Linked DNA regions of Homo sapiens. The protein of the gene in region 2 interacts with the protein of the main gene of each other region in a pairwise test. Each region holds a gene or a part of one and is shown on either strand. Other genes may lie near its edges. The genes, in order: KIF23 and RACGAP1.

Region 1 (15,759 bases), on a different chromosome or scaffold from region 2:
CTGTTGCCCAGGCTGGAGTACAGTGGTGAGATCAGGGATTGCTGCAGTCTTGACCTCCAGGGCTCAAGCAATTCTCCCACCTCAGCCTCCAAGTACCTTGGAACTATAGACGCACCACGCCCAGCTAATTTTTTGTATTTTTTGTAGAGATGGGGTTTCATCATGTTGCCAAGGCTGGTCTTGAACTCCTGGGCTCAAGTGATCCACATGCCTTGGCCTCCCAAATTGCCAGGATTACAGGTGTGAGCCACCGCACCCAGACTAATTGAATACAACTTTCCTCATTCTTAAAGAAATCAGTGTATTGTAATAGATTAATACCAAACCAGCCTAACTATAAACTTAGCCTCTAAATTATCTAATGGAGGACAATTGTGCTTAAACCACCCATCGAGGCCGGTTACAGTGGCTCATTCCTGTAATCCCAAGACTTTGGGGCGGCCAAGGTGAGAGATTACTAGAGCCCAGGAATTTGAGACCAGCCTGGGCAACATAAGGAGACCCCACCTCTACAAAAAATTTTTAAAAATTAGACAGGCATGGTGGTGCATACCTGTAGTCCCATCTACTCAGAAGGTTACAATGGGAGAATCAATTGAGCCCAGGAGTTTGAGGCTGCAATGAGCCATGATCACACCACTGCATTCCATCCTGGGTAACAGAGTAAGACCGTCTCAATAAAATAAAAATTAAAAAACAAAGAACCACCCATTGATAAGTAGATAATAAACTGGCATTGCAAGTTTCTGAAAGTTGTAGCAATAAATAAATACCATGCTTTACTCACCAGCTTCACGTAATCTGTTCCCTTCTGCTCTGGTCCGGTTAGTTCTTTCACTTCCAGCAAGATCTACCAAGGACAACTGACTTATAGTGATTTGTTCTTTTTCCTAAAAAGATCACAAAGCCAATAACTTAAAATGGGTTATAACTGGTTTATAATGTTCTTTAAATAGATTCATATCAACAAGCTAAGTCTTAATGAACATTTGCACAGTACAAAATGCACAGGACAGGCAAAGGATACCTATTTTAGGGGAGAGTTTGCTAGAAGAGTATGATAAATATACTCATGACATTAATGATTACTTGTCAATTGGCTGGTCTTCCTTCTGCATCAGACAGTAAGCCCCCTGAGAGCAGGGACTCTGTCTTTTACTACCTTATCACCAGCATGCTGCACAGTGCCTACCACTGAGTAGGAACTCAGCAGATATTTGCTGAATAAGAGTCTAGAACAGGATTATCCTAAATTCTTCTATAATCAGATATTTAATAATCTTATAATTTCATAATGCTATAAATAATTCTTTTGTTTTTTTTTTTTTTTTTTTTTTTTTGGGAGACAGAGTCTCGCTCTACCTCCCGGCTGGATTGCAGTGGCGCCATCTCTGCTCACTACAACCTCCCCCTCCTGGGTTCAAGCGGTTCTCTTGCCTCAGCCTTCCGAGTAACTGGGATTACAGGCGTGTGCCACCATGCCCAGCTCATTTTTTTTGTATTTTTGGTAGAGACAGGGTTTCACCATGTGGACCAGGCTGGTCTCGAACTCCTGACCTCAGTTGATCCGCCCGCCTCAGCCTCCCAAAGTGCTTGGGATTACAGGGGTGAGCCACCACGCCCAGCAAATAATTCTTATAAAAAGAAGTGAAAGTCAAGTGGTACCGAACTAATGCTGTAATATTAGATGTGATTCAATGGAAATCAGGTGCATATGGAAGGCTGACTTATAACCATTTTTTTTTTTTAGACAGAGTCTCACTCTGTCGCCAGGCTGGAGTGCAGTGGCGCAATCTTGGCTCACTACAACCTCCACCTCCCTGGTTCAAACAATTCTCCTGCCTCAGTCCCGAGTAGCTGGGACTACAGGCATGCGCCACTATGCCCTGCTAATTTTTGTATTTTTAGTAGAGACGGGGTTTCGCCATGTTGGCCAGGATGGTCTCAATCTCCCGACCTCATGATCCACCCGTCTTGGCCTCCCAAAGTGCTGGGATTACAGGCGTGAGTCACTGCGCCTGGCCCTTATAACTATTTTCTAGCTAACGGTTATTGAGGGCTGACTATAAGCTAAGCACTGGACTAAGAACTTTACACGCATTACCTCCTTTAATTCTCACAACCTTATAAGGAGGTTTTATTATAGCTAGTCGGTAAATAAATAGAAATGAGCATTCAAATCCTGGAGGTCTTCAATACCACTCCTGCCACTTATAAATCTTCATAATGCCACAATTTCATGATACAGTTTGAATAAAATTACACTTTAATGGATTACAGTTATTAGATTATGTATACTCAGACTCAAATGCTGTTACTAATTGACACAAGCCTTGTACTGTGGCAGGCCAGGCAGTAAATAGTGATCTGCATATGGGGGACCCTACTGGCCTATCGACCAAGAGATGAACAACTTATAACACTAGCCACTTCCTAAACTATACCTACCCTGAAAAATGAATTACTGACATTTTAAAACCACTAACTGAATTTCCACTTACAGAAGGAGTCGCCAGAGAGAAAAAATCACAGTCTTATTTTATCACTTCTACCAAAGGGATTTTTAAAGATTTGCAAACTTTTTTCACAGCAAAATTCAGGCTCTAAGATTCGATATCCAGCTTCCCAAAACTATAATAATGGGGAAAAAAAAGTTTTAATGTCATCGCCTACATACAGAGTCATCCCTTGGTGTCCTCGAGGGATTAGTTGTAGGATCTCCTATGGATACTAAATTTCACAGATACCAAATTCCATGGATGCTCAAATCTTGTGTATAAAATGGTGTAGTATTTTCATATGACCTATGCACATCCTCCCATACACTTTTTAAAGTTCTATTTTTTTATTTTTTTATTTTTTAGCCTTATTTTATTTTTTTGCAAAGACAAGAGTCTTGTTTTGTTGTCCAGGCTGGTCTCAAACTCCTGGCCTCAAGTGATCCTCCTGCCTTGGCCTCCCAAAGCACTGGGATTACAGGCATGAGCCACGCACGCACCCAGCCCTCCTGTATATTTTAAATCATATTTAGAGTACTTATAATATCTAATACAATGTAAACACTATGTAACAAGTTGTTATACTGTATTGTTTAAGGAATAATGACCAAAAAAAGTCTGTACATGGTCAGCACAAATGCAGCATTTTATTTTCGAATATTTTCAATCCACAGTTGGTTGAATCTATAGATGTAGAACTCACAGATACAGAGAACCAACTGTATATTTATTCTAGAGCAATCTTCATTGCAATAAAACCTCTCTAATTTAACTTTTTTTTTCAAGACAGGGTCTCACTCTGTCACCCAGGCTGGACTACAGTGGCGCGATCTCAGTTCACTGTACCTCTGCCTCCCAGGTTCAAGCGATCCTCCTGCCTCAGGTACACAAGTAGCTGGGATTACAGGAGTGGTGCATCACCATGCCTGGCTGATTTTTCCAATTTTACTCGAGACAGGTTTTTGCCATGTTGGCTGGATTACTCTAATTCCAAAAATTAAGGATAGAGTTAGAACCAGAAAAACTCCACATACTACAACTTTACCTGTAAGACATTGTCTCCATCTGCATCCAAGGGAGCCTGAACTAATTTAATGTTGAACACGCTATGGGAACGGCTGGACTCACGATTCAAATGGGTATTAGCAATACGTCTCTTTTTCTGGCCTAGGACAACAGAGAAATCATTGGTCAAACCTGAACTCAGTCATTTCATTATACATGCTTTCTAATAAGTCAAAAAAAATTGCCATCAAACTTAGTAGCAACTCTAGGTGATATTCATCATTCTGTATTTTTCTAGTTCTAGGTGTTTCTAACCTCTCCAGAAAACTTCAAAAGCCTCCTCAGTAGATTTCACTTCAACTTCTGTACATCCTGCAACATACATGTTATGGTTCTTATCTTCACGAAGCAATTTAGATTGTGGAGGTCTATGGGAAAGAAAAAAAAGATTAGTCTCCTAAATTATGAGATGCTGGTATCTTCATTTAAGACTAGGACTAAAACGCCAAGTGACATGACATGTTATTCTTCTAATGAAAATTATATATATTTTATAATATATATATAACGTATAATACTCCAGAGAAATATTAAACTTAGATAAGATTGTAAAGCTAAATAGTCAAGATTAGTTAAGTAACAAGATAACAGAAACCAATTTTGTTTTAAAAGCTTTGCTCTAATTTGCTCTAAGAAAGCACATGAAACAATACACTAAACAATTTAGAGACCAAAGTAGTATTACAGCAACATCACATGCACAGGTTAAGCATCAAAATCTAGTATTTTCCTAATTTGAAAAGACTAGCAGATAGAACCAGTTCTGACCTCCTCAGCAACAGCAGAAAACAAATTCAGAAAGAGTTTGGTATATACCAGGAGTGGCAATCCTTTCAAAGTGGCTTATGAAGTTTTAGTCTGTATGACAAGATGAAGGTTGGGTATGAGAGCTACCTGTTTGGTCTTAAGTCTTGTGAATGGTGAGGGTAGAGACATTTACCAGCCACCATCACTGATAGTCAATAGCAGATTTTTCAGGAAGCAAGGAGGGCTTAGAGACAGCAGCCAGCCCAGTGACAATGGAAAATAACCTACATGCAAACATGCCACAGAATGCCAACCATAGTATAACTGCACCCTTCTCCTTAAGAAAAGAGCCAACACCATCACATACACAAAATCTGTGTTCCTCATGGGTGTGCTGCAACTGTTCCACCTACCAAAGGAATAAGGTAGAAGTTACTGTTTCTACAGCAGCCATCTCACACCAACATGTTCAGTCCAGACTATGTGACAATCACAATGAGTCATATCTTAAAAACCCTCCACTTGTAATAGTTTTTCATTGTATTAAAAGTACTAAAAGTTAACTAGCTTAAAAAAGCAGGTCTAACACCAACCTAACAAATTAAATCTGAATTCAGGGCCAAACAAGCACCCTTGTATGTTCATTTAAGGAGTTACCCAGAAAGGTTACAAAGCACACAAGGTACTTTTGTCAATCTTCTTTTGTATAACTAAATAAAGCCAAGATATGATCCTTTGAAAATAATCTCATTTAGAACAAACCAAACAAAAAGTTGGCACACGAGCATACATGAAAATGGGTATACTCAAGATTAGAGTCAAGACAGTTGACACTTTAAAACAAATGGGAAAGTAATTAGTTTGATATAAAAAGTGATGGTCAGGCCAGGCATGGTGGCTCACACTTGTAATCCCAGCACTTTGGGAGACCAAGGTGGGAGGACTGCTTGAGGCCAGGAGTTCGAGACCAACCTGGGCAACCTAGTGAGACCCCTATCACTCCTATCTCTACAAGAAATTAGAAAATTAGCCAGGCATGGTGGCTTGTGCTTGTAGTTCCAGCTACTTAGGAGGCTAAGGCGGGAGGATCACCTGAACCCAGGAGGTTGGCTGCAGTGAGCTGACATGGCAGAGCAAGACCCTGTCTCAAAAATAAATAAAAAGTAACTGTCTCACAAGGTTTTAACTCTTCCATGTATTGCTCCACAACCTAACCCAAGTATTTTTACTATTACCAACATTCCAAGGGTAAATATAGATAGGTCACTCCAGAAATAAGTCCCTTTGTAAAGTTCTCACTTGAAGAAATGTTAAACAGAGCCAAAGAGTCTTCCTTGGCATAAACTCTTAGTATTAAGAGTGTTAATATTTTTACATTTAGCTTACTTAGCCATATTGTAATTGTTTTCCCAATAAACGTGATGAAAATTCAAGGACTCTGGTGAAGATAACTGTATCAAAATGTGACTCACTAAGAACCACAGAAATGCTTGTATCAAGTATGGCCTCAACCAGAGTCCATAAATTCTTCATGTAATTAAAAGTGGATATACTGGTATGTATTCTCAGTCTAATGATTTTCTAAATCCAGCTGTTTCTCCAATAATGTTCCCTTAGATATACAAAGTTAAATATAAGCCACAGGTCTTCGTATTATTTATGTCCTGAGAGGCCCTAATAAAGACAGCATTAAAGACAAGCCTTTAGCTGAAAAACAAAACCATCAACTCAGGAACAAGATACTAATATTAAACATAAGATCCCAGGGTCAACTCTGGCACAAATGCAGATTTATCATTTGTGATGCCAAGTGGTAACCAGTCTTACGTCTCAGAAAGGCAAGACCCAAGGAAATCTAGGAAGTAGTATTTCAACTCTGATGGAATTACAGTGCAGATATCATACCATATTAATGAATGATAGAAGATATGTAAGTATTACTTGTATAGATAACAGCTTTAGGCTCCAGTCTGTAGAAATCACCAAGACACGGGTGGTTAAAGAGCCTACAAAACTCCTTTTACTGTCTCAGGTTCTTGAAACGTTCTTAATTATATAATTAAGATCCTTCTCAAAACATAGCCCAGGGCCCAGAGTTTTCAAAAGTAATCTCCAAGATGAATATTTGGGTCCCTCTTCTCCTTAGATGCTTTAACCCACTAGTTCCCTAATACAGGTACATATCTAGTTAATAATAAACATACTCAAACACAAAACCACGTGATATACAAATTATATCATTTCATTCTGAAAACAAATGCAAGCATTATTCTCTTTCATAACTGAAGAAACTAAAACTCCTTGAGGCAAAGTAACTTCCCCAACATTAACAGCTAAGAAGGGGCTCTCTTTATTACTTACTTGGGTTTTATGGGATCAAACGGCACCTCTTCCAATAGATCATATATGTAATTATTATATATTTCAATATAAGAGACAAATACACCATAGACACTATCTTCATCAACCTCTTCTGCTTTGCAGAATTCTTGTACAGTTATCATATCTGCAAACTCTGGATCTACTTGTCGTCTAAAAAAAGAAAAGTTCAATTGTATACGTTATAAGTCCATTTTAAAAGTAAATGATCCCAGCCGGGCATGGTGGCTCACAGCTATAATCCCAGCACTTTGGGAGGCCGAGGCAGGCGGATCACCTGAGATCAGGAACTCAAGACCAGCCTGGCCAACATGGTGAAACCCCGTCTCTACTAAAAATACAAATTAGCCGGGCATGGTGGCGTGTGCCTCTAATCCCAGCTACTAGGGGGGCTGAGGCAGGAGGATCGTTTGAACCTGGAAGGCAGAGGTTGCAGTGAGCCGAGATCATGCCACTGCACTCCACCCTGGGCAGCAAAGTGAGACTCTGTCTCAAAAAAAAAAAAAAGTAACTGATCCCAAGGGGAAACTAACAGATAAAATAAATATCTGCAATTACAAGCAGAAATGCACAAAGCAGCTTTATTCATACTCATGGTTTGCCAACAGTATTCCCACGTCCTCCCGAACACACAACAATGGCTTTTATACCCTCTCCCCATCCAGAGTGGCACCCTCTTAAAACAGTGATTGAAACAAAATGTGCTCAAAGCCAAAGAGAAAACATCTGAGCAAAGAACTTAAGAACATTCCTTAACTTTAATCTCACAAAAGTCAACTTCTCTATTTAATGTTCACCATTCCTCATGTCTGGGCAAACCACAGGAAAGAATCCTGTGCCCCTAGGCCAGTGCTGCAGACAAATATAATTACTTACTTGCTAGAAGAAGTCTTTGGATTGGGCATAGCTTCTCTTTTCTGACGTTCTAATAAGGCATCAACCTCACACTGTATATCCATACTATTCCTATCATTAGATTTGAAAACCTGAAGTGGGGGCAAAAAAAAAAAAATCACACCACGTTTTTTAGAATTTAACTTAAATAGTAAGAAATATGTTTAAAAACTAAGGAACAGTTAAGGTTTCAAAATGAATCCAGTGCTTTGGTTCTTCTTTACTACTACTGTATCCATAGGTGTCTTAGTCCAGTAAGATAGTCACAACACAAAAGAATCATACTTACATATCGTTTAGCTTGAAATGACCCTATACTGTTAAAGATCATGTCCAAACAACGAGGAAGCAGCCCTCCTTCCCCTGGAGAACCAGTCATTGTGTGAGTTTTTCCACTTCCCGTCACACCATATGTAAAAAGAAGACCTACAGTGTAGCAAGTCACAATGAGTTATATCTTAGAAGTTCTCCACTTAGAGTATTTCTTCACTGCATTAGAAAACACTAACAATTAGCCAGCTCAAAAAAGGCAAGTTTAGCACCACCCTAACAAATTAAATATGGATTCAACACCAAACATAAATCAAATATATAAATATCAAAAAAGTTTTATCAGAAGAGGAGAAAAAGGAAAATCTAACAAAACTCCAAGAGTCATATCATACCATTTTTGCCATGAATGAGGTCATTGACCAAGGGATTAGCCACAACATCAAAGAGTTCCTTCTGGGTGGTGTGAGTGCCAAATACTTGTTTAAATGAATACTGAGTCTGTGGAGAGAGAAAAAAATGCACTAAATAGAATTCCACTATTATCTAGGCTAAAAATACATCTCCTTAAACTTAAGGTGTTTATGACATTTAAGATCTAAGCATGCAAAGAAAAAATATAAATGGTCTTTTTACAGTTGGAACCCTTAGTTATTTAGTTACTAAAAAGTCATGACATACCTATATCATACCAATTATAAACTGGTAAACGTTTTCAGTCACAACTACTAAAGAAAATGTAGAAAACTCTTTTTTTTTGAGACAGAGTTTTGCTCTTGTTGCCCAGGCTGGAGTGCAATGACACAATCTCGGCTCACTGCAACCTCTGCCTCCTGGGTTCAAGCGATTCCCCTGCCTCAGCCTCCCAAGTAGCTGGAATTACAGGCACGTGCCACCACACCTGGCTAATTTTTATATTTTTAGTAGAGACGGGTTTCACCATGTTAGGCTGGTGTCAAACTCCTGATCTTAGGTGATCCACCCACCTCAGCCTTCCAAAGTGCTGGGATTACAGGCGTGAGCCACCACACCTGGCCAAAAATGTAGAAAAGTCTTAAGTCTACTAATGCTTCTAATCTAAGGCTGATTTTGTTTTAATTAAGTGACAGAGATCAAAAGGTATTGTAACGATTCATAGTCACAGATTTGTGGAAATCTACAAGCATTATGTCATACACAACTTTACTGTTTCCTAGTTTTTCTTTATAAAGGTGTCATTTAAAATAGCAAAGCATGGGCATAGTGGCTCACACTTATAATCCCACTTTGGAAGGCTGAGGCAGGAGGATCACTTGAGGCCATGAGTTAAGAGACCAGCCTGGGCAAGCTCATCTAATAAAAAATTTTAAAAGTAAAAACAACAAAAAAACCTCACCAAAAAACAGTGAGCTGTGGTCACACCATTGCACACCAGCCTGGGCAACAAGTGAGACCCTGTCTCAAAAAAGAAAAAGAAAAAAGACATATAAAATAAAATGGCATAGCAGCATAATACCACGTTTTGATGTACTATAGTTTAAAACCAGAAGTAAACTGTAAATATTATCTCATCTCTGAGTTCTTACATGAAATACATTTTAAATAAATTGTGACCTTTAAGAAAGCAAGAATACTTCAATTATCAAGGCTCTCTAAATACAATTAATAAAATATCCTGTAAAAATCAGCTTTAGAGTTCAAAAAGAACAAAGAATCTTGGAACTGAAAGGATACACATAGGCTAATACTGAGAAGATAGATGACCTCACAGTCCTCATGAATGACTCCCTCCTTTCAAGGTAAAGAAAACTGAGGCCCGAAGGTGAAACTTCTCTGAGCCCATGGAGTTAATTAGTATCAAAGCCATCATCAGTGCAATGTTTTTGTTTTCTTCTTTTTTTTTTTGAAACAGAGTCTCACTCTGTCACCCAGGCTGGAGTGCAGTGGTAGGATCTCGGCTCACTGCAACCTCTGCCTCCTGGGTTCAAGCAATACTCCTGCCTCAGCCTCCCGAGTAGCTGTGATTACAGGCGCATGCCTCCACGCTGGGTAATTTTTGTATTTTTAGTAGTGATGGGGTTTCGCCATGTTGGCCAAGCTAGTCTCGAACTCCTGATCTCAAGTAATCCCTCTGCCTCGGCCTCCCAAAGTGCTGGGATTACACATGTAAACCATCATGCCCGGCAGCAATGCTCTTTTCATTATACAATGTTGCCTTCTGTCAGAAAGCAGTGACTATTTTTAATCCCCATCAAACCTTTTTATACCTACTCGATACCTACTCGATACCTATATTTATACATACTTGAAATTTACTTAAAGAAGTAAAACTCAGTAAATCAGTGTTTAACTATATTATATCCTTAAAGACCTGCTCCTCCAAAAAACCCTCCCAGACCATTCATTCTTGCTGAAGCCATATTTACTATTTGATGAACAGAACATATAAGGTACATATTCCCTGGAAGTTTACATTATGGTAGAGGAAAGACAATAAACAAGTAAACAAATAGATTGTGGTTAAGTAATGTAAAGGAGGCATACAGAGTACAGACCAGGGGAGAGGGGTTGTGGGGTGCTGTTTCTGATTGGGTAGTCTATACAACCCGAGGAGGTGATATTTAAGCTGAAACCCAACGATGACCCATGCTAAGACCCAGAAAAAGAGAAGTCCAGGTTAAGGCAACAGCTAACAGCCAGGATTCTGCCTTATCCAAGAAACTCAAAGGATTGGATGAATACTAAAAGATGAATGAAGGTGGAGAGACAGATGGGAGACGGATGAAGCAGGATTTTGTCTGTTCAAAGATTTTATTCTTTGAAAGGTTTTGAACAGGAAAATGAGATTTTATGTTTTAAAAGATCACTGTCTGCTCTGTAGAAATGGATTAGAGAAGATTCCAAGTGGAGGCAGTTGGGCTTTGGAAGTCTTGTCAATGATACCCAAAGCACACTCAGCAAACCAATGCCAGTCTGAGATTGGTTACCAGACTACTTAAATGTTTAGAAAGTTGTTTTTTGTTTGTTTGTTTCTTTGTTTGTTTGTTTTTTGAGATGGAGTTTCACTCTTGTTGCCCAAGCTGGAGTGCAATGGCGCGATCTCGGCTCACTGCAACCTCCGCCTCCTGGGTTCAAGTGATTCTCCTGTCTCAGGCTACTGAGTAGCTGGGATTACAGGCACACGTCATCATGCCCGGCTAATTTTTGTATTTTTAGTAGAGACAGGGTTTCATCATATTGGTCAGGCTGGTCTTGAACTCCTGACCTCAGGTGATCCACCCACCTTGGCCTCCCAAAGTGCTGAGACTGCAGGCATGAGCCTCCATCTGGCACTGCTCAATTATCAGTATTTCAGCATGTATTCAATAGGCTCATCTCTATGAAGAGATTATGAACTAGTTCCCTATTGTCTAACTCACACGGGCAGTTCCATCTAGCACAAGTTGTACAAAAGTCTCAGCTGTGACGCATTAAAAATAAAAAAGCTACTCCTTCATTACAGTAGCTCTGGTCTCAGTGATTAATAATGGGGCTCAGACTAGGGTGGTGGCAGTGGAGATGGAAATGAAAGGACAGTTTCAAGACACATGTTGGAATATAACTGATAGGAGCTACTAATGAACTAGTTATAAGGAGAGGCAAGTAAAAGGTAGGTACCAGGTTTCTGGCTTGAGCAACTGGACACACGATAGTGCCATTCCTTGAGAAGAAAACAAGGGAGGAAGTATTTAGAGAGGGAATAAGAAAAATCAAGAACTCCTTTTTGGGCATGTAAAATTTGAGATGCACATGTGACATCCAAGCAGAGATATCAAGTAAGTGGTTGAATGTTGAGAGCCAGAGAAAAGGTTTCAGCTGGAGATACAAGGAGAGCTGGAGGGGGAGACAGGAGAGTGCTGCTGACAAACAGGTTAAAATGAGGATGAAGAGGTATACATCAAATTTAGCAGCAAAGAGGCCACTGGTAGTCTTCTGAAGAGCAATTTCACAGGAATAGTAGGCACAAAAGAGTGAGTGACAGCTAGAAGTAGAAATGGTAGCCTGAATTAATCCTACTGCATTCCCACGGTCCCCTCATCTTTAGCACATCTAACTTTCTGTCTTATTTATATGAGAATTATTTGTTTACCATATATCTTAAGTTATAAACTTTCTAAAGGCAAGGAGTATGTCATGCTCTTTTTTTTAATCTCCTTCCACCCTCCAACTATTAGCTTAGCACATTTGCTAAACAATATTTTTGAGCTGACTCAAAACTTTACTAAAAATAAAAACACTGCATAGGAGGTTGATGCAAGTAAACAATGTCTATTATTAAATGTTATTTTCATTTCCACACATCAAGTTGTATATATAAAACTGCCTAGCACAATCATGTATCATTCCACATTAAATCATCCCTAACACATGCTCTAAGAAACAATAATACTCAGTGTAAGAAATTATCTGCTAAAAGCAATCCTCTAACCCCAGCATACCAAAGGTATGTCTGTGCATCCCAGAAGTCAAAAACACTTTAGATACAGTGGTTATAATGAAGTAAATAAGTCTTTTGAAAATGTGGGCTCACAAATGAACTTTGTTACATCTAAAAATCTAGAAGTCATTCAGGAAACAACATATTGAGTAAAAACAACTTGGTCCAAATCAGAATTACCTCCTTATAGTCTCCATTTCGGTTGAGTCTGTAGCCCTCAGGAGTATGAAGCTGAACAGTTGTATTATTGATCACTTCTATGCAACACTCTTGATCAGGAAAGCCCAGTGGGCGCACCCTACAGTATACCTGAAGAAATAGGAAGGTGCTTTAAGAAGAAAGTTCGACCTTTTGCCTGATTTTTCACTTAAGCTTCTCATTCATTCATTCATTCAACAAACATTCAGTCTCTCAATTTAAGAGCTCTGTATCTCCAAGGGCTAAGAAAATTAAAATCTGCTACTTGAGATTGACAAATACAAGTATGTATTAGATATGAGAATACTTTAAATACACACAAAATTAAAATAAATTTTAATAAAAATCAAATTGCAGTGTATTCACTATTATATTGTACACAAATAATAGTTATACTACTACTAATATCTCTAAAAGTCAACAACATGTCACACGAGATTTTTAAAACTGTTAGAATTTCTTGGAAATGGATGTCAATTTAAAAACTTGTCAGCTTAACCCAACATTTAATATACAAAGACATTTTTATTTATTTATTTATTTAGAGACAGAGTTTCTCTCTTGTCACCCAGGCTGGAGTGCAATGGCATGATCTCAGCTCACTGCAACCTCCTGGGTTCAAGCAATTCTCCTGCCTCAGCCTCCCGAGTAGCTGGGATTACAGGCACCCACCACCACACCCAGCTAATTTTTGTAATTTTAGTAGAGACAGGGTTTCGCCATGTTGGCCAGGCTGGTCTCGAACTCCTGACCTCAGGTGATCCACCCGCCTCAGCCTCCCAAAGTGCTGGGATTACAGATGTGAGCCACCGCACCCAGCCTACAGAGACATTTTTGAAAGCAGGGGAGGGGGCTTGAGGAAAACTCATTCAGCTGTGTGCAAAGCACCCGGTTCCCTTAACTCAGAGCCAGGGACCCACTCCAGTGGCAACGAGGGATAGATTTAAAATACCTCAGAGCAAAGAACCCTTTTTGTTTGCCATTTGTTGTTTTGTTTTAAAATTCTTATTCTTTTTGCCTGCTTCATTTTTTCTTCATAATTTAACTGAATTAAACTTGGTCCCAAGAAGTTTGGAACTCTCCTCATGCCATCAGTTACTGTATGGCATGAACTCAGTTCATATTCTCTGGGATGAATATGAACCCAGTTGGAGATTTTTAATTATCTAACTCTCCAAATTATAATTACAGAAGGTATGCAGTTGACAACCAAAGACTTCATTTTACTGGACTAATTTAATTAATCTTATAGAGAAAATTTCACAGCTAGCACTAGTTTTACACAATGTAGTACATCCATTTAACTAAATGTTCTTTGATTATACTTCCACATGTCTTCTTCTTTCCCTTCCAAGCATACACATAAGACAGAAAGGACTGAAGAGATAAGTTTCTTAAACACCACACATAAATTTACAGGGATACCTTACCCCAACTGGGTCTTTAAGGTTCGTTTGGGACCCTTTTTTCACGGTAGGTTTCCGGGGTGTCTTAGCTCTCCTGGTCATAGATTAAAAAATAATAATAACTTTTTTTTCAGTTCAACACGAATACAAAAGCCTCACCTAAAACTTATACAATCTTTCTAGGTTATCTGTAAATTATCCCTTAGCAGTTGCAAAACACTGCATCCCAAATAACATTAATAATCATAGTAGCAGAGTGTTTGTGGCATGCGTAATCCAAAAGTAATTAAAATTTGCTTTAGAATACATTTTTGGTACCAAAGCTACCTACTTATTCTCTGATTAGTTCTATACTTAAAATGGCTTGCATATTTTCTTGAGCAACAATTTAACAGAGGCACTACAAATTATAACTGCCCACACTTTACAGACTGACAAGCGATTAACTTCAATACACTATAAAAATGCACATGGAGGAAACCATTCTTTCGTCAAGGGTTACGCCTGTACTTTCAAGGAACAACCAGTCATTGAATGCTCAAAACATTACTCTTTGTCTCCAAACAAAATCTGGTCCCAAACTGCCAATTTCTTGGTTTCTTAAGTAGGGGCAATCAAAAAGTTATTTTGATTGATTTCACCATTTCTCTAGCATCTCATCTTTTTCCCTTCACATTTATCTATAGGCTAGATATACATTTAACACATTAAAATTAAGTAAGATTATTGGCTTCGACTGTAGTTTAAAAATATTTTTCCAAACATATTCTCAGATGAAACACAAGCAAATTCGTGTTATTCAGTGCAAAATACTTTGTGGTGGGCTTAAGTTAAACTCAACGTATATTTCTTATATATAATTTTTTTCATCTAAAGATTTTGACTTCGGCCTCTTAATAAACAAGTTGTCTTTTGCAAACGACTCCCTAAATGGTAATAAAGCCAATCCTCTCCTTTGCACGACAAATATTTCTTTACCCAGGAATGATGCTGCGCCGAAAATATTAGCTTAGGAATGTGGGCGGAGGTTCTCTGCGGCCACAAAATACAGCAGAAGTAACTGGCCTGTGTAAGCGGATGGGCTCGGCCTCAAGGACAGGGTGCTCGGCTGAAAAAAAAGCTAGCGGCGATCACCGGTGCCAGGGCTCTCCAGAAACGGAGCCCATCTAACCAATGCCCAGCACACTCGCTCTGCTCCACACACGAGACCACCTCCGACCCGCACTAAGTTGGCCAACTGCACTCTGGAGGCGGCGGCAGCCAGCGAGGGAGAAGGGAAAGGCTGTCCCGGGACCCCGAGGAGGACTGCCCCGCCCCCGGGAACCGGGTGCGGCGTAAAACAACCCCGGCTCCGGGCCGACCCTTCCTGGCCCCTTGGAGGCCCAGGCGGGGCGGCGGGGGGCGACGCGGCAGGGGTCTCCGCGCCCAGGCTCCCGCGGAGCGGCCACACGTGGAGGTTCCCACTTTGGGGTCGCGGCCGCAGCAGCACCGGGCGGGATGCTGTCCGCGCTGCCCGCGTACGGCCGCGGCCTGAGTGGAGACGCCTGCCCCCAGCCCCGAGGCCTCGGCCCCCGTCCGCCCTCTCTCCCTGCTCGGCGGCCTCGTACTCACGCTGACTTCATGGCAGCAGGCTCCACGCCGCCCAAACGCGCATGCGGGACGGCTGGCTGGCGAAGACTGCGGGACGTTAGGACCGGCAGCAAGAACTAGAACTTCGCGGCTAAGGCGCGGTGCTCTGCGAAGCCGGCGGCGACGCTAAGAGCCCAGGTGAGCTCCCGCCTGGCGCATTTCAAACGGGCCAATCAGCGCCCGTCCGCAGGGAGAGGCAGGACCTCCGCGGAAGTGA
Region 2 (15,759 bases):
CGTCCTAGGTTAGTGGCAGACTTGCTTTTGCTCCCAAATCTACAATAAAAAGAGAATGAACTGGAAAAATATTCTATAAAAAATGGTTGAATAAACAACTATAATATTACTTGATATAACCCATTATAAGTAGGAAACCCTAGACAACTATTTTGCAATAGTTGCTTAAGTATTCTTAGTCACCAACAACGAGAGAGGGGAAATAGTAAAGACTTTCAGAACCTTTTTAAAGAAGGAATCCTTATAGCCCCACGTTCCCTTTTAAAGTCTAGTTGCTAGCTAAAATCGAATGCAATTTTTCTTTCAATAAGCTTCAATATAATAAGAAGTCTAAGAAAGTAGTTGTTTTTTATTTCCTAGGAAGGCCAATTCTGCATACCTAGGAGTGTTCTTGGTGAGGGTGGAACGGACTCTCTGTGACAGGGAACTAGATGAAGGAGTCTTGAGAAGCTGATGTTCAGGAGTGGTCACAGGTCCCAGTAAACTCACTTCAAAGTTCAGACATATTTTTAAGAGAGGTGGGAAAAAAGAAGGCATCTTTTTAGATGGCTAGTTTTAAGCTGATTACCCTCTGAAGCACTTAAGAGCTAAGGTTAGACATCTAGCAAAGTCCCAGAGATCATTTTTGTCATCATTCTGTAACACACTAGTGTATCTTTTGAACTCAATGAATAGCTGACACGTCCTGATTTAGGCCATTCTCTAACTCCACACTTCACAAATCTAACATCTAAACATCTGACTTTTAGCTATACTAGAAGAAGCAATATGCTCCCTTAGAAGGAACTTGCAATAATGAAAGAATGGGTCTCCAATGCCAGTGAGACTGGAGTGAAACCAGCCTATTCATATAAAATTGTTGGTTAGCAATATAAATTGGCAAAAGCCTATAAGAAATTTAATAAATCAAGTTGGTAAAACATACCAAGACACATAAAAATGTTCAAGCCATTTAATTCAGTGATCCCACTCTTAGGAATTTATCATTAAGAGAAATGCTATATTGACTATAGCATTACTTGTAATTATGAAAAATTGAAAAATAATGTTAATACCTACTAGAACATTTAAGTAAATGATAAATAAGATTATACATGAGAAAAAGTTCTCACAACATGCTAAGTGAAATAAGAATGAATTATATTTAAACTATTATATATATATATATATATATATTTTTTTTTTTTTTTTTTTTTTTTTTTTAGACAGAGTCTCACTCTGTCACCAGGCTGGAGTGCAGTGGCGGGATCTCAGCTCACTGCAAATTCCGCCTCCTGGGTTCCAGCAATTCCTTGTGCCTCAGCCGCCCTGGTAGCTGGGATTACAGGCATGCGCCACCACACCCAGCTAATTTTTGTATTTTTAGTAGAGATGGGGTTTCACCATGTTGGCCAGAATGGTCTCAATCCCCTGACCTTGTGATCCGTCCGCCTCAGCCTCCCTCCCAAAGTGCTGGGACTACAGGTGTGAGCCACCATGCCCAGCCTATTATATCTATATTTAAAAAACATATATCCATATGGATAAAGAAAGGAGAACATGGAAAAGCAAAAAAAAATTACGATGGTAGAATTATACAAATTTTCCTTTAATGTTAGAATTTTCAAACAGCTCTAGCAAAGGCAGGAAGAGGTCATATGACTAAAACTAAAGAGAGAGTCAAGTCCCTGAAGAAGCACATCTTGGGCCTTACCTTTAATATCTGGTGTCTGTGGTGTTGAAAAGGCATTTGAGTTTTCAATGACATGTAGGGGGTCAATGTTCTCTTGCTCCACCATCATGAACTGACTCCAATACTCCAGAGGCAAGGAAAGCAGGCGCTCAACCACCTAAAAGCCAGCAAATCTGTTAGCAAACTTCCAAAGCTCAGGGCTTCTCAACTGTCTTTCAAGTTATCACATTACACAAGTTCACATACACACACACACGCACCTGCCTACCTTGGGTTGACGCTTGATGTCCTGTAACATTGTCACTGGGTCTGGATTGGGCACAGCATGGGCCACTATTGTAGGGCCAAAGACTTTAGCCAGATTGGCAACATCCATTTTAGTATGTGGACTCTGAGCCACTCTAAGCAAAAGAATATTAAATTAGAAGTCTTGCTCCTTGCTTAAATGCAGACCAAAATATAAATTCTATAAGAAAACAATTCATCCCTCATACTCCCAAACACTCAACCCACATTATCTTCCCCTTGGAAAAAAATTCCCTAACTCCCAGAACAAGTTTCTGCTGTACTCACCTCTGCAAGTGAATCATGAGGAAAGCTAATGTGTCCCTGTTGGCCTGGGGCAGTTCACCAACAGCTTGGTACATGGCAGCTATGCTGTTGTCTTCATCTGTGATTTCTGTAATTGAAAAGAAAGCACCAAGAGGCCTAGACTTCTTTCCCTTGACAGCGGGCTTCCAAGTTATCGACCACAAAGTCTCATCTATACAGTAAGCTTCTGAAACTCCTGATTAGTTCATGACTACATCAGACTCTAGTTTCATTAACAAGCAGGATACTGGCCAACAGCTCAATATTAGAAGTCAAAACTTTTAAAAAATCGGCCTTTGCAGTTAGGGAAAGCAGTTGGCAACTGATGTGCTAGGCAGACAGGCATACAATTGCAGTGACTACAATTACCAAGAAGGTATTCATTCATGAGACATATTTAAGGGCCTACGATGTGCCAGGTACAAGTGCTGAGGATAAAGCAGAAGTAAACAAAGCCCTTATCTTATGGAACCTACATTCTATTGGTGGAGTCAGTCAAAAAGCAAATACCTATCAGGTAGAGTGATACATAAATGAAGAAAACAAGGCAGGCAAGAAGCTAGAAAGAAATGAGAGCTGTTAATCTAGACAAGGTTGTCAGGAAAGGTGTTTCTGGGGACAAGGTATATGAAGAGAAATATGAAAGAAATAAAGGAGCAAACCATACTGTATCTAATGTAAGAGCATTCAGGTTGAGACAACAAATGTGAAGGCCTTAAGGTAGGGAGTAAACTTGGTATATTCTAAGAATTGAAAAAGCTCCAACCTAACTGGAGAGGAAGGAAAGAAAGGAAGAACACTGTACACAATAACGTAATGAGAAAGCAAGAGGATAGGCAAGGGTGACACGCATACAGTTACTCATCCATCAAACTACTTGAGCACCTACTATGTTTCAGGCATTGTACTAGGCAGGAGCTAATAAAAAGAGGAAGGTGGCCAGGTGTGGTGGCTCATGCCTGTAATCCCAGCACTTTGGGAGGACAAGGTGGGTAGATCACCTGAGGTCAGGAGTTTGAGACCAGCCTGGCTAACATGGTATAACACCGTTAACGCCTGTAATCTCAGCTACTCAGGAGGCTGAGGCAGGAGAATCGCTTGAACCCAGGAGGCGGAGTTTGCAGTGAGCCGATAGCGCCACTGCACTCCAGCCTGGGCGACAGAGAAAGACTCCGTCTTAAAAAAAAAAAAAAAAGAGGCTGGGCACGGTGGCTCACGCCTGTAATCGCAGCACTTTGGGAGGCCGAGGCAGGCAAATCACAGGGCAGGAGATCGAGACCATCCTGGCTAACATGGTGAAACCCCATCTCTACTAAAGATAGAAAACATTAACCAGGCATGGTGGCACACGCCTGTAATCCTAGCTACTCAGGAGGCTGAGGCAGGAGAATCGCTTCAACCTGGGAGACGGAGGTTGCAGTGAGCTGAGATTGCGCCACTGACTTCAGCCTGGGCGAGAGTGAGACTCTGTCTAAAAAATAAAAAATAAATAAAAAAATAAAGAGAGTAAGAAAAACTACTGCCGTGGAGGAATTCATATTCAAGTATTACATCTGCCCTTACCTGCTGCTTCCATAAAGGCTCTGTTAAGGCGAAAGGTCAGAAGAGGTTCTTTGAGGTTTCGAAGAAAGTCTTTTAGAAGGCTACAGATAGCATGGATATCATCCACTTTGCTGAGGAGGGGTACAGTTTTCACTCTGAGGAATTTCTCTTTCAGCTCTTTTACTGTGCGGTCACAGCCAGAGATCCTATACAGGCCTGTCTATTATCAAGATGACATTTTTATTTAAAAACCTCCGAATTAACACAAATAACAAATTCACCATCTCCTACAGTTGACTCTTACCTCAGTCAGACCTCTTTGCTCAATCTCATTTACACAATGCACAACAATGGAGGGGATCATTGGAGAAGTCTGGGACACAAAGTCTGCCAGCATTCCCTGGAAAAAAAAAAGAGCTTTAAATTATTATTTACGCCATGTAGACCAACAGATGAAGACCACATGCGAAGAACCACCTCCAATCTTATTCTCAAACTGGGACATCATGTCTACTTTTACATTCCTATTCCCAAAGCATATATTAAAACAGAGACTCTCAATTATTTTTCCTACCTCCACACCAGGACTGATTTATTATCATATATACCACACTTTTTCTTTTTCATATATACACCACACTGTTATGTGAACAAGGAATAAGACCACCAGCTATAATTACCTCCTTCTCATCCACTCAAGGACAGCAGAAAACAAGCAATAATGAGGTTACAGGTATAGCCTTTAATATAAAATAATTTATTACTCTAAACAGATTTTTTTTTCTAACAGAAGAAAGCTGGAACAAGAGAAAAAAATTGTGTATACTTTCATTATTCTCAGTAAAAAAAATTATTTAACATATCTTATCAGTTGATTATGACACAAACCTACCTGTAGGGGAGAACTCCATGGTTCTATATTAGAGTACAGAACATGTGTAAAAAAAATGTACAGGCGGCCAGGTGCGGTAGCTCACGCCTGTAATCCCAGCACTGTAGGAGGCCGAGGTGGGCGGATCACCTGAGGTCAGGAGTTCGAGACCTGCCTGACTAACATGGAGAAACCCTGTCTCTACTAAAAATACAAAATTAGCCAGGCATGGTGGCGCATGCCTGTAATCCCAGCTATGAGGGAGGCTGAGGCAGGAGAATCGCTTGAACCCAGGAGGTGGAGGTTGTGGTGAGTCGAGATTGCGCCATTGCACTCCAGCCTGGGCAACAAGAACAAAACTCCCTCTCAAAAACAAAACAAAACAAAACAAAACAAAACAAAATGTACAGGCATGGATAAGAACTTGTAAGATCAGGGGAAAATAATATTTGATTTGCTGAAGAGTAGGTAGGAAGATAGTCATTTTGATTCTTGCTAATGTTACTTACATAATAATTTTTTTTTTTTTTGAGATAGGGTCTTGCTCTATTCCCCAGGCTGGAGTGCAGTGGTGTGATCACAGCTCACTGCAGTTTCAACCTCCCCACCTCAAGCAATAGTCCAACCTAGCCTCCTGAGGAGCTACAAACACAGGCGCACACCACTAACCTGGCTAACTTATTTATTTATTCTTTGTAGAGATGGAGTCTTGCTTTGTTGTCCAGGCTGGTCTCAAACTCTTGGGCTCAAGTGATTTTCCTGCCTCAGCCTCCCAAAGTGCTGGGATTACAGGCATGAGCTACCACACTCAGCAATAAATAATTTCTTAATGGATTTAATCAGTTTGGATTAAACTGGTTAAATATTTGGAAATAAGCAACTTCATTTTGATAACCTATTATGAAGTATGTCTAACATAAGAGCAAGAATAAAAGATAATTTTATCACAGATAAAATTATATGATAGCTGAGATTTGCTTCCAAGTAATTCATTGGACAGAGTCAGGAGGAGGCAACGACAGTATTGATAAATCAAGAACAGACATAAAGGCTGGGTGCCATGGCTCACACCTAGAATCCCAACACTTTAGGAGGCCGAGGCAGGCGGATCACTTGAGGTCAGGAGTTCAAGACCAGCCTGGCCAACATGGCAAAACCCCGTCTCTACTAAAAATACAAAAAAATTAGTTGAGCATGGTGGCACATGGCTGTAGTCCCAGCAACTTGGGAGGCTGAGGCATGAGAATCACTTGAGCCCAGGAGACAGAGGCTGCAGTGAGCCAAAGTTGCAACACTGCAATCCAGCCTGGACAACAGGGAAACTCTGTCTCAAAAAAAAGAGAGACATTAAAAAAAGAATGGACATGACCAGGCGCGGTGGCTCACGCCTGTAGTCTCAGCACTTTGAGAGGCTGAGGTGGGCGGATCACTTGAGGTCAGGAGCTTGAGACCACCCTGGCCAACATGATGAAACCCCATCTCTACTAAAAAATACAACCAAAAAAAATTAGCCGGGCATGGTGGTGGTACATGCCTGTAATTCCAGGTACTTGGGAGGCTGAGGCAAGAAAATCGCTTGAGCCCAGGGGGGCGGAGGTTGCAGTGAGCTGACATCCTGCCAGTGCACTCCAGCCTAGGCAATAGAGCTAAAAAAAAAAAAAAAAAAAAAAAAAAAAAAAAAAAAAAAATGGACACAAGTTAGTAATCATGGAAGTTAAGTGATAAGAACCAGGGGTTAGTTATACTAATTTCTCTAGTTTTATATATGTCTGAAATTTTCCAAAATGGGATGAAGGGGAGGAAGGAAGGAAGAAGAGGCAAGGAGAAGCAGGGAAGAGCAAGAAGGAAAAAGGGGCGGGGAAAGAAGTTTGGTTTAGAAAGGTATTAGACAGACAAACCCAAACAGGACTCTTCTACAAGTAAGTATCTTACAATTCTAGTCATTATTTGTGGAAAGAAATATATTTGAGATGATTAATTTTAGAACAAAAACTGACACTAAGCCTTTGAAAGGCGAATAAAGAGGCCATAAAACAATGACGGCTTGCATAAGTCATACCTCTCCAATCTTGACAGGTGTTCCTATCAGGGTAGGAATGCAGGGAAGGGGACAGCGGTCCCGACATTCTGGATGAGAGACCACACGACAGTCTCGACACTTCAGAGATAATTTGCCAAATTTTATCCGCTTTCCACATGGAACACAGGATTCAGGTTTAATAACCTGGGATAAAACAGGGCAGAAGGAACAGAGTGATATGAATTAGAAAATTATCATCATAATCAACTAACTTTTTTTTTTTTTTTTTTTTGAGACCGAATCTCACTCTCTCGCCTGGGCTGGAGTGCAGTGGTGTGATTTCAGCTCACTGCAACCTCTGCCTCCCAGGTTCAAGCGATTCTCCTGTCTCAGCCTCCCGAGTAACTGGGATTACAGGTGCCCACCACTACGCCCAGCTAATTTTTCGTATTTTTAGTAGAGACAGGGTTTCACCATGTTGGCCAGGCTGGTCTCGAACTCCTGACCTTGTGATTCACCCACCTCGACCTCCCAAAGTGCTGGGATTACAGGCGTGAGCCACTGGGCCTGGCCTTTTTTTGTCTTTTTTTGAGACAGAGTTTCGCTCTTGTTGCCCAGGCTGGAGTGCAATGGCGTGGTAGAGGTTGGCTCACTGCAACCTCCACCTCCCGGGTTCAAGCGATTCTCCTGCCTCAGCCTCCCAAGTAGCTGGGATTACAGGCATGCGCCACCACGCCCGGCTAATTTTTATATTGTTAGTAGAGACGGGGTTTCTCCATGTTGGTCAGGCTGGTCTCGAACTCCCGACCTCAGGTGATCTGCCTGCGTCAGTCTCCCTAAGTGCTGGGATTACAGGCGTGAGCCACTGTGCCCAGCCATAATCAACTAACATTTATTGAGCACTTAGTATGTGCCAAAAAATTTTCTAAGCCCTTTAGACATATTTACATATGTAATTCTCACAGTAATCCCATAAAATAGGTTTTGTTTTCTTCATTTTAAGATGAGGAAACAGAAGCAAAGAGAGTTTAAGTAACTTGTTTAAGGTCATCCCACTGGAAGGCAGCAGTGTGTGATAGTGGAAAGAACTTGTTTACAAAGAGCAGAAAACTTGGATGTTGGCAGGGCATGGTGGCTCACGCCTGTAATCCCAGCACTTTGGGAGGCTGAGGCGGGAGGATCACCTGAGGTCAGTAGTTTGAGACCAGCCTGGCCAACATGGTGAAACCCCATCTCTACTAAAAGTACAAAAAATTGGCCGGGCATGGTGGTGGGCACCTGTAATCCCAGCTACTCGGGAGGCTGAGGCAGGAGGATTGCTTGAACCCGGGAGGCAGAGGTTGCAGTGAGCCGAAATCGCACCACTGCACTCCAGCCTGGGCAACAGAGTGAGACTCTGTCTCAAGAAAAAAAAAGAAAAAAAGAAAACCTGGATGTGAAATCTGTCACTTACTATCATGTGGCTCAAAAATGTCAGTTAACTCCTCTGAGCCTCAGTTAATTTGCTTGGATTTTTATAAGGAAATAAAATGGTACAAAAGCAAAACATTTTGAAAATCTTAGGTGATATATTCAAGAAAAAATGTAAACATGTGTCACTAAAAAGTACTAACAATGGGCCAGGCACAGTAGCTCATGCCTGTAATCCCAGGACTTTGGGAGCTGAGGCAGGGGGAGCACTTGAGCCCAGGAGTTCAGGACCAGCCTGAGCAACATAGCAAGACCAAGTCTCTACAAAAAATTTAAAAATTAGCCGGGCGTGGTGGCACACATCTGTATCCCTACTACTCAGGAGGCTGAGGCAGGAGGATTGCTTGAGACTGGGAGGTTAAGGCTACAGTGAGCTATGATTACACCCCTGCACTCCAGCCTGGGTGACAGAGTAAGACTCTGTCTCAAATTAAAAAAAAAAAAGTACTAACAATTGCTTCAGAAAAGTTGGTCTCTTTAATTTAGTATTACTCACAGAATGGAAAGAAACTTACCTCTGTAACCAATAGTTACTTCTGGAGAGTAAAATTGGAATGAGGAAGGAAATTTGACATTTAACTTTATAACACTAAAGTATTTAACTTTATTCCTGGTATTTATTACTTTCACAATTAAAAAATTAAAACACAAACAACAATCACAGATTTACCGTCTTAGAAACAAAGTCATGCAGGCGCATCCCTCCATTACTCTGTGGCGTGCCCACACTGTCTGTCTCAGTTCTTGGCTCCAGCTGCCTGCTGTTCAGGGTGGAGTCACTGTTCCAAGGTTGTAAAGTACCTAGAAAACAAGCAACTTTTAAGCTTTGTGTCTTAAGTATTTTGCTCCTTCTAAATTTTAGCTCCAATTTTAACTGGGAGATAAACAGTAATCTGTTATCATAGCCAAAAGTGAGAACTAATGGCTATGTAAAAAAACAGTTTCAAGAAAAACTAAAGTTATGCCAGTGGGCTAGCAATTCAAAGGTAAAGCATGACACAAGCAGTTCTCTGGTCCTCGGTATGCAGCAGTAAGAAACTACCCAATACATCCAATCCCCGCCTCCAGAGGGTTCTAAGAAACCAACTCTCCAAAATTTTGCTAGTTGTTTTACACAGGCCAGTTTAGTCACAAATTCAATGGACCTGTTTTCCTTCGGCTCCTGGTCCAATATGGCACAGTCTCAATAGTGGACACAGCTTCGATGGGCCCGCCATCATTGGGAACAGTCACTGTAGTTTTTGCAACTATGGATTCATTCCCCTGCAACAAAAGTAGTAATGAGGAAAGACAAACAAAGAATCTAACTTACCCTCCACTATAGGGTATTTTGGAGCAGGTAAAAAATTCCTTAGTCTTAGTCAAGACTTAAGACCCCAGTCTGATACTTTTTTTTTGAGACAGAGTTTTTCACTCTACCGCCCAGGCTGGAGAACAGTGGCGTGATCTCGGCTCACTGCAACCTCCGCCTCCCAGGTTCAAGGCATTCTCCTGCCTCAGCCTTCTGAGTAGCTGGGATTACAAGCATGCGCCACCACACCTGACTGATTTTTTTTTTTTTGAGACGGAGTCTCGCTGTGTCGCCCACGCTGGAGTACAGTGGCCCAATATCGGCTGACTGCAAGCTCCACCTCCCGGGTTCACGCCATTCTCCTGCCTCAGCCTCCCGAGTAGCTGGGACTACAGGCGTCTGCCACCATGCCCAGCTAATTTTTTGTATTTTTAGTAGAGATGGGGTTTCACTGTGTTAGCCAGGATGGTCTCAATCTCCTGACCTCGTGATCCACCCGCCTCAGCCTCCCAAAGTGCTAGGATTACAGGCGTGAGCCACCGCGCCTGGCCGACTGATTTTTGTATTTTTAGTAGAGACGGGATTTCGCCATGTTGACCAGGCTGGTCTCGAACTCCTGACCTCAGGTGATCATCCACCTGCCTAGGCCTCCCAAAGTGCAGGGATTACAGGCGTGAGCCACCACGCCTGACCTGAAACATTCTTATGTTGAAATCTGATGTTTGGCTGGGTGCAGTGGCTCATGCCTGCAATCCCAGCATTTTGGGAGGCCAAGGTGGGAAGATCACTTGAGCCCCGCAGTTCGAGTCATCCTGGGCAGCAAGGAGAGACTCCCCCTCTACTTTAAAAAGTAAAAATAAAGAAATCTCGTACCTAAGAAGATAAACATAGGTCATGGGGGTATATATTCAAGCAACTAAGACTCACTCTGACAGTTGTTTACTACATCAGAGTAATTCCATTCATAGGGATAAGGATCCTACTGCATAGAAAAACTTTAACCAAAGGCCAGGCACGGAGGCTCACGCCTGTAATCCCAGCACTTTGGGAGGCTGAGGCAGGTAGATCACCTGGTCAGGAGTTCGAGACCAGCCTGACCAATATGATGAAACCCTGTCTCTACTAAAAATACAAAAATTAGCCAGACGTGGTGGCATGCGCCTGTAATCCCAGCTACGTGGGAGGCTGAGACAAGAGAATCACTTGAACCTGGAAGGTGGAGGTTACAGTGAGCCAAGATGGTGCCATTGCACTCCAGCCTGGGCTACAAGAACAAAACTCTGTCTCAAAAAACAAACAAAAACTTTAACTAAACATCATGTCTCTCAAAACAATGCTGCAATGCTGACTCAGAGAAGTTTTAATGCTTGGGGCCAGTAATCTCTGTTACCTTGGCCTGACTATTCTTACCTGGTCTACTGCAGAGCCAATGGAACGAGTTTTCTTTACAGGTCCAGGGGGACCATCAACAAACTGTCGGCTAGTAGAGCGCTAGAAAGGAGACAAAGACCCGTAACTTTAATGCCAAGCAGATCTGAAGCACAGAAGATAAAATTATTCCATCAAACAACTTGGATACAGGTCCTGGGGATTAGGGCTACAGTAAATAACAAACAATGTGTTCTCTCTCTCTCTCTCTTTGCCTATTTCCACATGAAGAATAAGCTGTTTCAAAAGAATATGTTGTACAAAAATGCTCTCAGTGCCCTAGAAAAAATGAGCAAGCTATGGAGAAATTTAGATGACACCACCAGAAAAAGTACAGCTGTAATCCTAACTAAGGACATGAAGTCTTGGAAACACATTAAGTACCCTAAACAAGCATACACAGATAGATCTCTATATATCCCATTATATGAAGCTTATATTAGAGCACAAAAGTTCTGTGTAAAAATTCATATGACAATTCAAAACAAACTTAAGTTTATCCTTTTCCACTGTATGAATGAATTGAAATGCAGCCTAAACAGTGAAATGGACAGGATTCTGTCCTAAGTTACTACTTCAAAGAGTACCAGTACTGGTTGGGAGCAGTGGCTCACGCCTGTAATCCCAGCACTTTGGGAGGCCGAGGCAGGTGGATCACCTGAGGTCAGGAGTTCAAGACCAGCCTGGCCAACATGGTGAAACCCCGTTTCTACTAAAAATACAAAAATTAGCCAGGCATGGTGGCAGGCACCTGTATCCCAGCTGCTTGGGAGGCCGACGCAGGAGAATTGCTTGAACCCGGGAGGCGGACGTTGCGTTCAGCCGAGATCGCGCCATTGCACTCCAGCCTGGGAAATGAGCAAAACTCCGTCTCAAAAAAAAGAAAAAAAAAAAAAAAAAAGAATATCAATACTGTCCCCACAGCATGAATTCATCTGTAGTATGTGCTTAACAATGGCTAGAGCAACATGACAGGAATGCAGTATCATGGCAAAATTTCCAAAAATAACTCCATTATTACTTTGTTTTAAAAAAAGACTAAACAAATCATACATACCCTCTTTTCTCTCTTCTTCAGTTTGAAAGTCTTCACCAAAGAAGAGTCCCAATCCTGTTGACAATTACACTGTATTAATTTCTTTTTTTGGTTAGGCCATCCCTAAACCCTGTGCAAATAAATTTACAGAGAACTTTAAAGGCTTCTTCAGTCAGGCTACCTAACGTACAATTCGGGGAGGGTTAGAGAAGGGAAGGTCTCAAGTGTTGTAGCTATAGAGCTATAGTAAGTTAATGTGCTTTCTTTGAAAAATTGAAGCTATTATAATAAAATCAGGAATCAATACCACAGAGGCAAGAAGAGGTTAAAGAATCAAATTCTGCCATATTTCCAGTGGCTGATCCTTTATTTCTGATTATTTTTGTAATTAGTTTTAGAACTTACAGAATGTTAGGCACTATACTGATTGTATTAGATGTGATTCTTGCCCCCAAGGGATTGCCACTGTCTAATCAAATGCTCTGCATAATATTGCCACTTCACAAGTTCCACAGTTGCCAGGCGATGGCTCATGCCTGTAATCCCAGCACTTTGAGAGGCCAAGGTGGGCGGATCATGAGGTCAGGATATCGAGACCATCCTGGCTAACACGGTGAAACCCCGTCTCTACTAAAAAAATACAAAAAAATTAGCCAGGCGTGGTGGCGGGCGCCTGCAGTCCCAGCTACTCTGGAGGCTGAGGCAGGAGAATGGCATAAACCCGGGAGGCGGAGCTTGCAGTGAGCTGAGATTGCGCCACTGCATTCTAGCCTGGGTGACAGAGTGAGACTCTGTCTCAAAAAAAAAAAAAAAAAAAAAGTTCTACAGTTTAGGAACTTAGGCCCTAAAACGTGTCCACCACTGAAGAACTATTTGTCTTTTATTGTGGTCTCATTTCAATTCACCTATTTTAACTATTTGCATTCATTTTAGTAGTTACCTGTGATTTCCTTACTCCTGATCATCCCTGAAAACAGTATCTAGAAACAGTGGTATACAGCAAATAATAGCTTAGCTAAATAAATTTAACTTCCCCAAGTCATGGTCCAGTAATTTAGTTACTGGTTGTTTGATTCAGCTTCAGTTACAAGAAATATCGTATCATAGGTCTAGCTCAAAAATCAACTGATAATATGATCTAGTTTTATTATATATTCCAGACCTCCACTATATCATTCCCTATTTGAGAAAGGTGATGCCTAATATTTTTATCTATAAAATGGCCGTATTTTCCCTGGTCAAACACTGAATCTGAACAGAAAACTCCTAGCCATGTAACAAATAGTTGTCACCTGTTTTGCTATACCAGAAAACCAGTCACCAAAAACTTCCTGATTTGTTTTGTTTGCTAGTTTTCAGCTAGTAACAGAAAAGATGCACAAATCAATGAACTATATCAAAGACTGTATCAGGAGATGACCTTTTATGCAGAAGCATCACTGTAAGTTAAAAGAAGTGTGCCGCCCCATAAAAGCAGGGCAACAAATAGTTTAACATGTTAACCATTGTTGATGAAAGCATTATATAGTGCCTAGAAACTCTAATCACACTTTTCTGGCTGAAATCCCAGGACCTTGGTTTCCTTCTAATTGTGAAGTATGACTATGCTTTCCCCAAGAACCAAACTAATTCAGAAATAAGGCACAAGTCTATTTAAGAGCAGCAAATAAACCCTGACGACATACAGTCTTGCTAATATTTTTATTATTAGCTGGGGCTTTAATAAGTCAAAATATAATCAGTTAGTACATGTGGCACACAGAGATCTATTAAATGAACTCAACTTATGCCAAATTCTGAATTATATATTCTCACTTCAGAAACTAATATATAAGCCAGCCTCTTATAGCTCATGTGGATTTATATTTTAAATTGCTAGCTCAGAATCTATAACACATCAACTAATAAAATAGTAATATAGGATGTTCAGAAGAGAAGACAGGAGAGATATTCCTGGGGAAGCAGAGGTAAGAAAAGTAGGTAATTCTCAGAGATCAAATGTTTATTACCAGTGATTCATCAGTCTTGTCAAAGCTGATATCTGATAAAATGGAACCAGATTCATCAATGGTTGATAGTCTAGATCAGTGAAACAATACAACGTTAGACATGGTAGACTGTGGAATGTAAAATTCACCAACATTCAGAACAAGTCCTACTGGTCAGGTAACATCAGTTAATTTCATAGCAAAATCTTCACTATAGAGACAATTACAATCTCAAACCCTGTGGTAGGCTACTTTGTATGGTTTCCACGGAGGAGTGTGTGTGCATGAGTACAGGTGCAACACAGTTGCTTTTTCAGCAAAGACCTTATAAGGGCAGTTGAAAGTTAGTCAGGGTTATGGGTGCTATTCTCTACCGAGTTTGTATTACAGGCTACTCCAAATTCACAAAATCAAGGGAATGAAGTTTAATTTGATCCCAACTGTGCTGGTTTCTACAAACAAGAGTATTACCCAACACTGACTTTTTAAGAAATTAAGCCTGTACATCTTCTTAGTTATAAAGATTCCCCATAAAACAACCAGGCAACAAAATAAATAGCTGACCTTTCCCTACATATTGTACTGGGGATGTTAAATTCAAAGCCTGGTTGAGACTATTTTAAACAGTGGTGCAGTGGAACCAAAATTATTGTCTGGTCTTGGCTCACAGAGGCCTTTCTAAACCAGAAGAGCTGTAAGAGCTCTCTGGAGAGTAAACACTGAAAGTATTGCTGAACTGCCACTTTCACCTTTGGGTTTCTTAGCAATGCACAGGATTAGTTATTGATGTGCAATTTAGCACCAACATCAAAATTGTATCCATGGTGAAACAACATCCTTAGGAAAGATTTAAAAATAAAATAAAATAAAATATACAGGGACATCCCTGTGCCTTTATTCCCCACCTACTCTCCCCACAAAATCTTTTTCTGCTTTTTTCAGCACACATTCTAGAAGAAGTATATTTAAGAATTCAGATAACAAGAATATCTGACAGCCTGTGTTGCTTGTGATAGGATAACAACAGATGCAGTTCCTCCACCTTTTGTTCCCAGCATTGCTGCTGGATGGTTGGCCTCTGTTGAGAAAAGCCAGAGCTGATTTTTGCTCCTCGCTTAGTTGAATGCTGCCAGATGTGTCACACATGAGCATCTCTCGAATCAGCTGAATCTGTCGTTCCTACAGACCAAAGCAAAGTAAAACATCATAACTAGCCAGGGGAGAAAGCTTCACCTCAAGTTTATGGGACAGGCAGACCAGAAGACATTAAAATGCAGCATTATGCAAATGGACCTTCAGGAAGGCTGCTACACCAATAGCATATTAATTCACATCAAACCCAGATTGTGTCTCTGATTTCTGACTGGTAAAATGAACTACATCTAGAACAGCGAAGTTTCTGCTACAAGACTTTTGGATTAACCTGCTAATCCAAGAGGAGAATAATGCAAAATGAGAGTCCCAAAATAGATTTCACATAGCAAAAACACTTTAGTGTCATTTTATCAGGACAAATATTGGCTTCTACGGATCAAAGCAGCCACCCACCTCTCAAAGTAGTGGAGCAAAATGCATTAAAATGGATACAAAGCTATAATGCACTGGAACCAGACAATTTGAGTTTACTGAGGCATCTAACACTGTATACCAAGATGGATTAGTCCCTCCCAGTAAAGGCTTTCCTTTGCATTATGACCCATCCTGGCACATCAAAATGATAGTGTTCTGTGTCAGTCACATTGCTCAACTGGTTGAATACATCTAGCCTTTTACCCTGAATTAGAGAGGGGTGATGAAAAGAAGAGTCACAGTTGTCTTGCCTGTATGTATGACAAAGTACCAGCTACTCA

Evidence for each region.
Region 1: the proteins of RACGAP1 (region 2) and KIF23 interact in a two-hybrid assay, tested with the Homo sapiens proteins (one study listed by IntAct).

Annotation. Positions count from the first base shown.
Region 1 is NC_000015.10:69,414,242-69,430,000, reverse strand, and holds the start of KIF23 (kinesin-like protein KIF23), read right to left. Parts: upstream 15,653-15,759; 5' UTR 15,536-15,652; coding exon 15,525-15,535; exon of another isoform or gene 14,892-15,524; intron 14,008-14,891; coding exon 13,938-14,007; intron 12,619-13,937; coding exon 12,490-12,618; intron 8,355-12,489; coding exon 8,249-8,354; intron 8,010-8,248; coding exon 7,873-8,009; intron 7,676-7,872; coding exon 7,566-7,675; intron 6,843-7,565; coding exon 6,672-6,842; intron 4,720-6,671; coding exon 4,678-4,719; intron 3,932-4,677; coding exon 3,819-3,931; intron 3,666-3,818; coding exon 3,544-3,665; exon of another isoform or gene 3,345-3,543; intron 891-3,344; coding exon 788-890; intron 1-787.
Region 2 is NC_000012.12:49,990,305-50,006,063, forward strand, and holds part of RACGAP1 (rac GTPase-activating protein 1), read right to left. Parts: intron 15,089-15,759; coding exon 14,952-15,088; intron 14,001-14,951; coding exon 13,931-14,000; intron 11,997-13,930; coding exon 11,943-11,996; intron 10,949-11,942; coding exon 10,868-10,948; intron 9,430-10,867; coding exon 9,312-9,429; intron 8,968-9,311; coding exon 8,837-8,967; intron 6,901-8,836; coding exon 6,736-6,900; intron 4,206-6,735; coding exon 4,110-4,205; intron 4,026-4,109; coding exon 3,827-4,025; intron 2,352-3,826; coding exon 2,246-2,351; intron 2,074-2,245; coding exon 1,941-2,073; intron 1,830-1,940; coding exon 1,694-1,829; intron 489-1,693; coding exon 380-488; intron 40-379; coding exon 1-39.